Regions from separate parts of the Homo sapiens genome. Here regions 1 and 2 are each linked to region 3. The links come from fine-mapping of genetic effects on gene expression. A gene starts in region 3. Each other region holds a variant in brackets. All regions are shown on one strand. Distances are between the middles of the regions.

Evidence for each region. PIP is the estimated chance that this variant, and not a neighbour inherited with it, causes the effect. A credible set is the group of variants that fine-mapping cannot tell apart.
Region 1: its variant is the best candidate, but not a certain one, in a credible set for the expression of GLO1 in nasal epithelium (TOPMed, PIP 0.89).
Region 2: its variant is the best candidate, but not a certain one, in a credible set for the expression of GLO1 in whole blood (INTERVAL, PIP 0.61).

What each region holds. Positions count from the first base shown.
Region 1 is chr6:38,757,275-38,761,274 of GRCh38, forward strand. All of the region lies in intron 10 of DNAH8 (dynein axonemal heavy chain 8), which reads left to right. Among named protein-coding and RNA genes, the nearest start is that of DNAH8, 44 kb to the left of the region's middle. The variant T/A (reference allele first, on the strand shown) is at 1,709.
Region 2 is chr6:38,613,680-38,618,031 of GRCh38, forward strand. The region is part of intron 1 of BTBD9 (BTB domain containing 9); the gene reads right to left. Among named protein-coding and RNA genes, the nearest start is that of BTBD9, 24 kb to the right of the region's middle. The variant G/T (reference allele first, on the strand shown) is at 2,379.
Region 3 is chr6:38,701,254-38,705,605 of GRCh38, forward strand. GLO1 (glyoxalase I) reads right to left here and starts at 1,892. Exons shown (of 6, transcript NM_006708.3): 1 at 1,718-1,892. The coding sequence starts at 1,801. RefSeq lists enhancers at 1,034-1,626, 1,659-1,708, 1,729-1,828, 2,009-2,168.

The DNA.
Region 1 (4,000 bases), 56 kb after region 3:
TGATGAGCATTTTTTCATGTATCTTTTGGCTGCATAAATGTCTTCTTTTGAGAAGTGTCTGTTCATATCCTTTGCCCACTTTTTGATGGGGTTGTTTGTTTTTTTCTTGTAAATTTGTTTGAGTTCATTGTAGATTCTGGATATTAGCCCTTTGTCAGATGAGTAGATTGCAAAAATTTTCTCCCATTCTGTAGGTTGCCTGTTCACTCTGATGGTAGTTTCTTTTGCTGTGCAGAAGCTCTTTAGTTCAATTAGATCCCATTTGTCAATTTTGGCTTCTGTTGCCATTGCTTTTGGTGTTTTAGACATGAAGTCCTTGCCCATACCTATGCTCTGAATGGTATTGCCTAGGTTTTCTTCTAGGGTTTTTATGGTTTTAGGTCTAACATTTAAGTCTTTAATCCATCTTGAATTAATTTTTGTATAAGGTGTAAGGAAGGGATCCATTTTCAGCTTTCTACATATGGCTAGCCAGTTTTCCCAGTGCCATTTATTAAATAGGGAATCGTTTCCCCATTTCTTGTTTTTGTCAGGTTTGTCAAAGATCAGATAGTTGTAGATATGCGGCATTATTTCTGAGGGCTCTGTTCTGTTCCATTGGTCTATATCTCTGTTTTGGTGCCAGTACATGCTGTTTTGGTTACTGTAGCCTTGTAGTATAGTTTGAAGTCAGGTAGCGTGATGCCTCTAGCTTTGTTCTTTTGGCTTAGGATTGACTTGGCAATTTTTTGCCAGGGCTCTTTTTTGGTGCCATATGAACTTTAAAGTAGTTTTTTCCAATTCTATGAAGAAAGTCATAGGTAGCTTGATGGGGATGGCACTGAATCTATAAATTACCTTGGGCAGTATGGCCATTTTCACGATATTGATTCTTCCTACCCATGAGCATGGAATGTTCTTCCATTTGTTTATATCTTCTTTTATTTCCTTGAGCAGTGGTTTGTAGTTCTCCTCGAAGAGGTCCTTCACATCCCTTGTAAGTTGGATTCCTAGGTATTTTATTCTCTTTGAAGCAATTGTGAATGGGAGTTCACTCATGATTTGGCTCTCTGTTTGTCTGTTATTGGTGTATAAGAATGCTTGTGATTTTTGCACATTGATTTTGTATCCTGAGACTTTGCTGAAGTTGCTTATCAGCTTAAGGAGATTTTGGGCTGAGACGATGGGGTTTTCTAGATATACAATCATGTCATCTGCAAACAGGGACAATTTGACTTCCTCTTTTCCTAATTGAATGCCCTTTATTTCCTTCTCCTGCCCGATTGCCCTGGCCAGAACTTCCAACACTATGTTGAATAGGAGTGGTGAGAGAGGGCATCCCTGTCTTGTGCCAGTTTTCAAAGGGAATGCTTCCAGTTTTTGTCTATTCAGTATGATATTGGCTGTGGGTTTGTCATAAATAGCTCTTATTATTTTGAGATACATCCCATCAATACCTAATTTATTGAGAGTTTTTATCATGAAGGGTTGTTGAATTTTGTCAAAGGCCTTATCTGCATCTGTTGAGATAATCATGTGGTTTTTGTCTTTGGTTCTGTTTATATGCTGGATTATGTTTATTGATTTGTGTACGTTGAACCAGCCTTGCATCCCAGGGATGAAGCCCACTTGATCATGGTGGATAAGCTTTTTGATGTGCTGCTGGATTCGGTTTGCCAGTATTTTATTGAGGATTTTTGCATCCATGTTCATCAGGGATATTGGTCTT[T/A]TTTAAAATAATTTGAGAAATTACTCAAGCAACACATGAGACCAGGCATGGTGGTTCAGGCTGTAATCCCAGCGCTTTGGGAGGCTGAGGTGGGAGGATCGCTGGAGCTCACGAGTTTGAGACCAACCTGGGCAACATAGAGAGACCTTGGCTCTACAAAAAAAAATTTTTTTAAGTTAGCTGGGCATGGTGGTGTGTGCCTGTAGTCCTAGCTATTCCAGAGGCTGAGGCAGGAGGATCCCTTGAGCCTGGGAGTTCAAGAATGCAGTAAGCTGTGATAACACCATGGCACTCCAGCCTAGGCAAGAGAGAAAGACCCTGTCTCAAAAAACAAACAAACAAACAAACAAACAAACAAACCACCACCAACGAAAAAACCCACATGAATAGAATTTATTTGTAAATTATTCAAGCATAACGAAATATATAAAGTCATAGTCACATTTTAAGTTTTTTTAAAAAGCAAAGTATAGGCTTAATCACTATGTCCTAAATACGACAAGACTCTCAGAATCCTTCCTCTTTACCTGTCTCTCTCATTCTTGCCATATATGTCCCACATTGAGATCATTTTTAGTTCTGACAATGATTCTTTGCTTGGCTTCTGAATCTTCTGGTAGGCCCACCTTTGCACTTTCTAGTGAAATCTAGTTTGAGCAAAGAACCCTGCTAAGTCAGTTTAGCAAGAACCCCCCATTCTTGATATCTGATGACTCTAGATATCTGATCAGGTTTTCATTCCCCCCAACCCCCCAGGTGTTGTCTGATCACTTTGGCCTGTCTTCAGCAAGAATCCTGTTAGGTCAGTTTAACCAAAATCCCCCTTACCTCTGATGTTTCCTCTTAATAATTTTCCACCCACTGACTCCCATCCTGCCCCTTGGCTATACATTCCTGCTTGCCCATGCTGTGTTCAGAGTTGAGCCCAATCTCTCTTTCCTGCTACAAGATCCCATTGCAGTGGTCCCTATACCTATCACAATGGTCCTGAATAAAGTCTCTTGCTTTGCAAGTATCACTGAATAATTTTTTAACAGTTCCATATTATTCTTAACATTTTTTTCAACATTGTGAATCAACAAGTATTCAGACTAAAATCCAAGTATTGCTAATTTATTTATCACCACTGTTTTGTGATTCCCACATCTTTTTCCTTCTTGGATTCATTATTTCTTTTGCTGAAAAAATTCTTTCAGAGAGGTTTCAGGGTGGTGAACTTCCTGGATTTCTACATGTCTGAAAATCACTTTCATTTTGTCTGATCACTCAAATGCTAGTGTGACTTGGATTTTAAATTCGACATCATTGTCTCCTGGGAAGTTGAAGATATTGCTCAATCATTGTCTAGTATTCAGTATTGTTGAGGAGAAGCTTGGTGCTAATATGATTCTTGTTTCCTTTGTAGGTAACTAGTTTTATTCTCCCAGGAAGCTTTTAGGATTTTTTTTCTTTATCTTTGAATTTCTAAAATCTCAAACTTTTTTTTTTTACATTTATCTTGTTCTACACTTGCTGAGTTGTCTCAATCCAAAGACTTTCCTTTCTCTTTATTCCTGAGAAACAGTCCTCTTTTGCCTGGGATTATTTCTAGCTCACTGATATGGTTTGGATATTTGTCCCCTCCAAATCTCATGTTGAAATGTGATCCTCAGTGTTGGAGATGGGGCCTGGCAGGAAGTGTCTGGGCCATGGGGGTGGATCCCTCATGAATGGTTTGGTGCCCTCCTTGTGGTAATGACTTCATGCAACAGCTGATTGTTTAAAAGATCCTGGCATCTCTCTCTTGCTTGCTCTCATATGAGGCCAGTTCCCACTTTGCTTTCTACCATGATTGTAAGCTTCCTGGGGTCGTCATCAGAAGCAGATGCCGGTGCTATGCTTCGTGTACAGCCTACAGAGCTGTGAGCCAAATAAACCTCTTTTCTCTATAAATTACCCATTCTCAGGTATTCCTTGATAGCAATGTAAATGGACTAACACACCTACCCATTCAATTTATTCTCTCCCCTTGCATCTAACTTCCATTTCTCTTAATTTTTTTCTTCCATCTTTGCCCTTTTCTGGCTCACTCATTTGCTCTTCATTTTTTTTTTGGATTGTATTTTATTTATTTATTATTATTATTTTAAATTTTATTATTATTATACTTTCAGTTTTAGGGTACATGTGCACAATGTGCAGGTTTGTTACATATGTATACATGTGCCATGTTGGTGTGCTGCACCCATTAACTCGTCATTTAGCATTAGGTATATCTCCTAATGCTATCCCTCCCCCCTCCCCCCACCCCAC
Region 2 (4,352 bases), 88 kb before region 3:
TTTTGTGTATTTCCTGCACATTTTGTTTCAATATAAAAATGTCAGAGGGAGCCTGGGAATAAATGGTTAAGGGGTACTGACATTCCTGTAGCAATGTAAGGAACCTCAATCTGGACTCTGGGAGATGTGGGCCCTGACTTTCCTATCAGCAAATCAGCTGTCCTCTTTGGCTTTTGTTAATCTCATTTGTAAATGAGAAGACAGGGCTAAAAGTTCTCTGAAGTCCCTTCCAGCTATGAGTATTCTCTTCCTCTCCTTCCAAACAGCTATGTCAAGTCTCACCAGAACGCTTACCACCATAAAAACATCCAACTTAAGCAGACTTTGCTGGTGAGGAGCCCTCCTGCTTATTCACCTTGTTCACCAGTTAGTGAGAGCCAGGGATATGGAGCTGCTGGCTCTTCTGAGTTGTCAAGTCTCTCCTCTCATACCTCCAGCCTTTTACTATTGGAACTTCTTGTATTCTCCTTGTCTGGCTAATTCTGCCTCTTTCAAGGCTCAGAACAAGCTTCAAGCCCTTCAGCAGAAGCCTTCACTGACGCTGCCAATCTAGGTCACCTCTTCTGTCAGATTCTGTTCCCCCATCACCGCCCCTATCATACCTTGCTATGATTTTGTTACGGACCTGTCTTGTTGGTTAGTAAGCTCCCAGAGGACAATAACCAGAACACAGAGACTACAGGCACTCAACAAATGCTGAATAACATCTTACTCATCTTTACATCCCCAGCACCTTACAGTGACTGGCATATTTAAGACCCCAAAATTAACAAAAGAGGCCATACAGATATTAACAGACCTCTCTTCCAAATTCCAGACCCCTATATTACCACTGCCCACTTTACATTTGCACTTACTTTTCTCAAAGATACCTCAAAACTCAATTCACACTCTCTATGCCCCTCCCTAGTAAAAGCCTGTCCTTATGCAATGTTCCCTAGCTCAGTGAATCCGGCTGTGGAAGCCAGAAAGACACTGCCTTCGACCTCAACCTAATCCATCAGCAAGTCTTTTGTTTTTACCTCCTAAGATAGCTTTCAAGTCAATTTACTTCTTTGCAACTTCCATGCTACCATTCTAGTTCACTCCACCTTCATCTCTCACTCGGACCCTCACATAGTTCCTAAGTGATCTCCCGCTTTCCACTCAGACCTTCCTCCAAACTGTCCTCCATGCAGGAGCCAGAAAGAATTTCTCAAATTACAAAACTTGAGTATAAACCATTTCCCTCATCCTTTCCCTCCAGAACTCCTGTCCCTATTTAAAACCCTTCAGTGGTATTCCACGGCTCTTATCGTAAAAGAAGCACAGAAAAAAACGTTTAACTGGGCCTTCAAGGCCTGTGGAATCTGGGCCCTGCCTAACTCTAATCATTCCCCCTGACTTTCCCTAGCACTGACATGCTCCCTTATGCCACAGGGCTTTGGCATAAGTTGATCCCTTGTTGGGACCATGCTTCTTCTTTTCACCTTCCATCATCCAAGTGCAACTCAGGTGCCATTTCCTCATGCAGCCTTCCTTGACCTGGGTCTAGCCAGCGCTCTTGTCATCTGCACTTAGAAGGCTTTTCTTTTCCTTCACAAATTGTATCTCTTTGTATTTATACATTTCCACCCTTACATGCCATTTCTCCACATAAATCTTTTGAAAATATAAATCAGATCAGTCACTCCATTGCTTAAAACACTTCAGTGCCTTCCTATCTCATGCTGAATAAAAATCATACTCCACCAAGATCTACAGCTCTGCAACCCAACCACCTCCCCAAACTCATCTCCAACTCCTCTCCTGGCACATTCTGCTCCAGCCACACTGGCCTTACTGTTCCTTAAACACAGTCAAAGCTTATTACTGACTTAGGATCCTTATCATTACCTTCCCTCTACCAGAATGTTTTGTTCCCAAAGCTTCATACTACTGGCCACTCACCATTCAGGTCTTGGCTCCTAACCACCCTACATACCCTACTACCCCCTTCACTCCCATACCATTTCTAACCTTCTACTCCATTTGATTTTCTTCACTGCTCTTAGCCCTAGAAGATAACCTCCATGAGAGCATGGGTTCTGCCCTATTCACCTCAGTGCCTAGAAAAGTACCTGGCATAGAGGTACTCAATACCTGTGTGAATGCTTAAAGTAATTATTGCGGTCCTTTTTCAAATAACTGCACTTCACTGACAGTGAAGAGTTACACATATGAGGATGGGATAATGTTGGCTGTGGTAGGCAGAAATGTAAGATGGCACCCAAGATCCCTGCTCCCAGATACACACACCCATATAATCCCCTCCCCTTGAGAGTGGGCAGGACCTGGAAATATGATGGGATAGTTACTCCAGTAACTTTATATAAGAGTCTTGTAGCTGACTGGAGGGA[G/T]ATTCTCCAACTAGCCTTGAAGAAGCAAGCTGCCATGTTGTGAGAGGCCCATTGGCTAGGACTTGGGGGTGGCCTCTAGGAACTGAAAGCTACCTCTAGCTAACAGCCAGCAAGAAAAGGAGGATCTCAGTGGTATAATCACAAGAACCAAATTCTGCTACCAACCACTGAGCTTAATAGAGGACCCTGAGCCTCAGATGAGATTATAACCCTGCTGACACTTTGATTTCAGCATAGTAAGACCCTGAGCAGAGAAGCCAGTTGTGCCATGCTTGGACTTTTACTTATATAATGGCCATCAATACTATCAGACCCAACGCCTACTTTTTATAACAAATATTTTATTACAACGCCCTACTATTCTGAAATAAAATTCAGAGATATATAACCTACTAAACACTTTTTTTTAATGTATTAGCAAGCCAGGCACATGTCTAATAGTCCCAGCTACTCGGAAAGTTGAGGTGGGAGTGGGAGGTGAGGCCAGCTGGACTTCCTGGGTCGGATGGGGACTTGGGGAACTTTCCTGTCTTACAAGAGGATTGTAAATTGCACCAATCAGTGCTCTGTAAAATGCACGAATCAGCAGGATTCTAAAAGTAGCCAATCGCGGGGAGGACTGAAAAGAGCGCGCTTTGATAGGACAGAAACGAAACATGGGAGGGGACAATAAAGGAATAAAAGCTGGCCACCTCAGCCAGCAGCAGCAACCCGCTCAGGTCCCCTTCCACGCTGTGGAAGCTTTGTCCTTTTGCTCTTCACAATAAACCTTGCTACCGCTCATTCTTTGGGTCTGTGCCATCTTTAAGAGCTGTAACACCACAAAGGTCCGCAGCTTCATTATTGAAGTCAGTGAGACCAGGAACCCACCAGCAGGAACAAACTCCGGACACATCTTGGGGACTTGTCCAGGATATCGCTATGCGGTGAGTACTATCGGACCCCTTTCGCTTGCTATTCTGTCCTATTTTTCCTTAGAATTCAGGGGCTAAACACTGGGCACCTGTCAGCCAGTTAAAAGTGACTAGTGCGGCCACCGGACTAAAGACACGGGTGTCAGGCTTTCTAGGAAAGGGCTCTCTAACAACCCTTGCCTCTTCGGAGTCGGGAGCGTTGCTTTGCCTGGAACCAGCTTCTGCTTTTCCTGCACTTCCGGGCTGAGCCGAGGGTCAACAGAGAGGAAAGCCATTCGGCTCCAAAAAGTTGGTTGACCCTGCAGCCATGAGCAGAACTCTCAAGGTTACATCACCCAAGCGAGACTTGCCCATCTATTCTATCTATCCTGACCCTTGCCTCCTGGGTCCCAATGCCTCTCAGAGAAGTTCCTCCCACCTCTCTTCTCCAAGGCTAGTCCTGCTTCTCAAAACCACTCCCTGTCCCCGATGCTCTTCTAGTTTCTCCTATAAGGATAATTTGTAACATAAATTTCAGGACTCTGTTCCCTTCTTTAGGCACCCAGGCTTACCAATCAGAAAGACATAATTTTTGCCCAAAGCCCCGTCATAGGGGGTACTATCTGGAATTTTAGGATGCCTCCTCAGACTAGCAGGCCTAACAAAGGCCATTCCCAAAGCCAGGATATGGAGAGCCTCAGAAATTACAGACTCCAAAATTGGGGGGATGTCCTTCCTATTCAAATGATGAGAAGTGAGGACAAAAGACGTCACTGTTCCAATGCTGGAAATCCCTTCCCTCCCTCAGTGTATGGCCCTCCACTCCATTTTGAGGCATATCATCTTCATAGGACAAGGGTAAGGTCCCAGCACCAACAGGAGAAAACACTTAGGACTCTAACTAACAGGTTTTTGAGAATGCATCCGTAAGGGCTACTAAATCCAACCTTTCTCGGTCCTCTTTGTGGTCTAAGAGGAAAGGCAAGGGTGCAGGTTTTTGAGAATGTGGTGGTTAAGAGCCACTAAATCTGACCTTCCTCGGTCCTCTTTGTGGTCTAGGAGGAAAACAAGTATTTCCACT
Region 3 (4,352 bases):
CTTCTTCATAGGGTTGTTGTTAGGATTAAATTAAACAATGTACTTAAAATACCAAGCCAGGGCCTGGCACACTCAATATATACCAGCTATTATTATGTATTCCATTTTATGTCTCCCATGGCCAAAAATTACTGATCTCAAAATTAATTACTCCGAATCATCAAGAGAAATTTAGATACTGTGGAATGTAAATTAAGCTGCAAGGACATTTACTTAGTATATTTTATAAAGATATCCCTGGAATCCTTTTTATTTGAAAACCCCATTACATAAAACCCCTAGTTATCTGGGAAAATACTTTACACTGAGTGACTCAATTTACATTATATGAAAAAACCAGGTATTAATATTAAGGGATATACAAGTGAGATGGGCATGACGGAATTTTTTTACCTTCCCCCTTAATTTTGCAATGACTAACATTTTTCCTAAGCCAAGTACCAGGTGCTAGTCAAAAGTTTTAGCAATGAGATGTGTCTGACTCTTTGCCCTGAAGGTAAAGAACAAGCAGGGACCAGAGTCATGGACCACTTATCTACCCCTTTTAAAGGTCTGCACGAAGCACATATTCAATCTTCAAGGAATTTACAAATGATGTAGTCAAATAAATAAATACAAAGGTGTTTACAGACACTGATGACTTCACTGGAATAAACAGCGGTTACTGTGCCTGAATTTTTTTTTTTTTTTTTTTTTAGACAGAGTCTCACTCTGTCGCCCAGGCTGGAGTGCAGTGGCACGATCTCAGCTCACTGCAAGCTCCGCCTCCCGGGTTCATGCCATTCTCCTGCCTCAGCCTCCCGAGTAGCTGGGACTACAGGCACCCGCCACCACGCCCAGCTCATTTTTTTGTATTTTTAGTAGAGACGGGGTTTCACCGTGTTAGGATGGTCTCTACCTCTTGACCTCGTGATCCGCCCGCCTTGGCCTCCCAAAGTGCTGGGATTACAGGCGTGAGCCACCGCGCCCGCCAACTGTGTCTGATCTTAACAAGGCAACCGAAACACCACACCTGAGTGAGTTACACTGATTCTTACCCAGTAAAGACATGTTCGGTAAGTGAAAGCCTTTGTATGCAACAGGTCATTTCTCTTACTGGGTCATTACTGTAAAACGAGAGGGTAAGAGAAGGAATTTCTAAGATTCCTTTCAGATCCAAACTCTATGATTCTGTAATCTCTCCTGGGCCCCACGAAGATGAGGAAGGCAAGAAGGGCTGTTGTGACCCACAGCAAAGGCCAAGCAAGCAAAAGTGAAATTCTGGGCGCGGTTAAACTTAGAGCGATCAAATTAGTTTGCAGGAGTTAAGACTGCAGTCAGGGTGGTAAGGAAAAACGAGGCTGGGCAGGACTGGTACAGGACAGGCATCTTTGAACCTATTTCTGGGAGTTCTGAAACTACTGTTCTCGTGGGCCTTGGCGACTGATTTGGGAAAGCTGACCCTGGGTTGGCCTGGCTTCCAGCCACCGTCGCAACATAAACAAGCCAATTCAAAACAGGGTCGCAGTCTTTGAAACTAGCTGAGGCAACAGATCCCCTCCACACTTCGCGGGCCCCACGATCGCCCCATCAAACACCATTATCCCTCTTCCCATCACACTCCCGTCCGCCCGAGGCCGGCGGACCTGCAGCGGCGGCGGGATGGGGTTGGATAGAATGCGGCCCGGTCCCGGCCCAGCGGAGCTGGGGGAGCCGTTCCCTTCGGTCCTGTGCCCACCTTGGTACTGGGGTCCGCGTCGGAGCAGCAACTGAGGGCGGCCTCGTCCGTGAGGCCGCCGGACGGGGGCTGCGGTTCTGCCATGGCTGCGCTGCAGTATCACAGACGACGGGACCCAAGGAACGGAGGAGTCACCCACACTACGCCTCGGCCCTGTGCCGCCTTAACTAGGAATGGCGCGATGGCGCCGCGGGCGGGAGACCGCTGACTTCCAGCCAATCGCTGCGCGGAGAGCAAGTTGACTCTCTGCTGATTGGGTCCCAGTGAGTCAGCGCCTCCACCCACAGGACTATGCCTCAGACTACAACTCCCAAGGAGCCTTGCGCATAAAGGAGGCAAACTCATACAAAAAAAAAAAAAAAAATGCAGGCTGGGCAGAGTGGTTTCTCTGTTACTTAATGAGCTAATTTTGTTTGTTTAACTAAAGTTTGGTAACCATTCATACCTCAGGGCTGCAATTTGGTAGAAAATTGGAATCTGATGGAAACTGAAAACTGTAAGTTGTTCTTTTAAAATTGTAAGGATTCAGAGGTTTCTCAGTTTACGCAGCGCAGAGTAATTAAAACAATTGTTGAGTCGAAAACCTATGTTCAAGTCTTGGTTCCGCTATATATTAGCGCTAGAAACTTGCAATAATTACTGACCCTCTCTGAGCTTCCTAACAGGATTTGTTGAGAATTAAATAAGTTTTCTTTTCCTTTTTCTTTTTTCTTTTCTTTCTTTCTTTCTTTTTTTTTTTTTTTTAATTTTTTTAACAGTGTCTCGCTCTGTCGCCCAGGCTGGAGTGCAGTGGTGTGCTCTCAGCTTACTGCAGTCACTGCTGCCTCGACTTCCGGGGCTCTAGCTGTCCTCTGGCCTCAGCCTCCCGATTAGCTGAGACTACAGGCTGCAAAACCAAGACCAGTTAATTTTTGTATTTTTTTGAGATGGGGGTTTCACCATGTTGCCCAGGCTGGTCTCAACTCCTGGGCTGAAGTGACCCTCCCGCCTCAGCCTCCCAAAGTGCTGGGATTACAGGTGTAGCCACTGTGCCCAGCCTAAATGAGATTTAAGTCATGGTTTGCCTACTTAGGTTCCAAATGTCCATAACTTGCAGTACTTTTTACATTAATATATATTTTGTGTTCACTGGAAGGCTTAGTCATCACTGTGTCTTCAATGATTGGCTCATAATAGTAGATGCTCATTAAATACTTCCTGTTGTTAAAAGAATAAATGGGAATGACTGGTGCTCACCTAACCAAAATGAGGTTGGGCAGGGATGTATATGGCACTAGCCACCTGGCCACCACCAAGATGTCCCCGTCTCTCATCTCAGCTTTTTTCTGCATCGCAGCTTCAGTTTGTCAGACACCAGCTCCATAAGACTAGAAATTTGGCAGCTGTTCTCTCACTAGGAGTGGGAGTAAACTCTCCCTCTGGATTTTATCCAGCCAGCCTGGATTTTATCAAATTGGAAAATCCAAGAAGGAGCTGTGATTGGCCTGGCCTAGGACCTGTGCTTACTCCTGTGATTGAAGCACTGCGATTGGCAACCTGGATTAGGACCACCTGATTGGAGTTTGGGGAGGATCTGTTAGTTCCCTAAAAGAAGAGCGATGATGTTCTTATGAGAAGGGAGGATTGCCAGGCAAACTGAACCATGGATGTCCACTGCAAAATGATAGGCAGGATAAGGATTTCAGCAGAAATGTTGTGCATACCTCATACTAACTTACTGAGGATATTTCATCAAAACACAGTCTATTAGAACTGCAGGACTTCTATATGGAACTAGACCTTAAACCTTTTAAACTCGGGAATTGGAGCAATACACAAACTCTCCATATACTGTGTGTTACCACTGAATTATTGAAAAGACCCCCAAATTGTCTTCTTTTGCATTAATTTTCTTTTTTAGATGGAGTCTTCCTCTGTCGCCCAGGCTGGAATGCAGTGGTGTGATCTTGGCTCACTGCAACCTCCACCTCCTGGGTTCAAGCGATTCTCCTGCCTGAGCCTCCCAAGTAGCTGGGATTACAGGCACCTGCCACCATGCTGGCTAATTTTTGTATTTTTAGTAGAGACACGGTTTCACCATGTTGGCCAGGCTGGTCTCAAACTCCTGACCTCAGGTGATCCGCCCACCTCGGCCTCCCAAAGTGCTGGGATTACAGGCATGAGCCACTGTTCCCAGCCCTTTTGCACTAATCTTTCTGGTGAGCTTCTCAGACTATGTGAGATATAAAGCATGTAAATGAATAGGAAGACTCAATATCATAAAATATCAATTCATTTACTAATTAATCTGTTCATGTAATGAAATTCCAATAAAAATCCCAACAGAGTCCTTTCTTTCTTTCTTTCTTTCTTTCTTTCTTTCTTTCTTTCTTTCTTTCTTTCTTTCTTTCTTCTTTCTTTATTTGTTTCTTTCTTTATTTCTTTCTTTCTTTCTTCTTTCTTTCTTTTCTTTCTTCTTTCTTTCTTTCAAGATAGGGTCTCACTCTGTTGCCCAGTGTGGAGTGCAGTGGTGCTGTCTCAGCTCACTGCAGCCTCAACCTCTCAGGCTCCAGCAATCCACCCACCCACCCACCTCAGCCTCACAAATAGCTAAGACTATAGGCATGCACCACCAAAACCAGATAATTTATTTTAT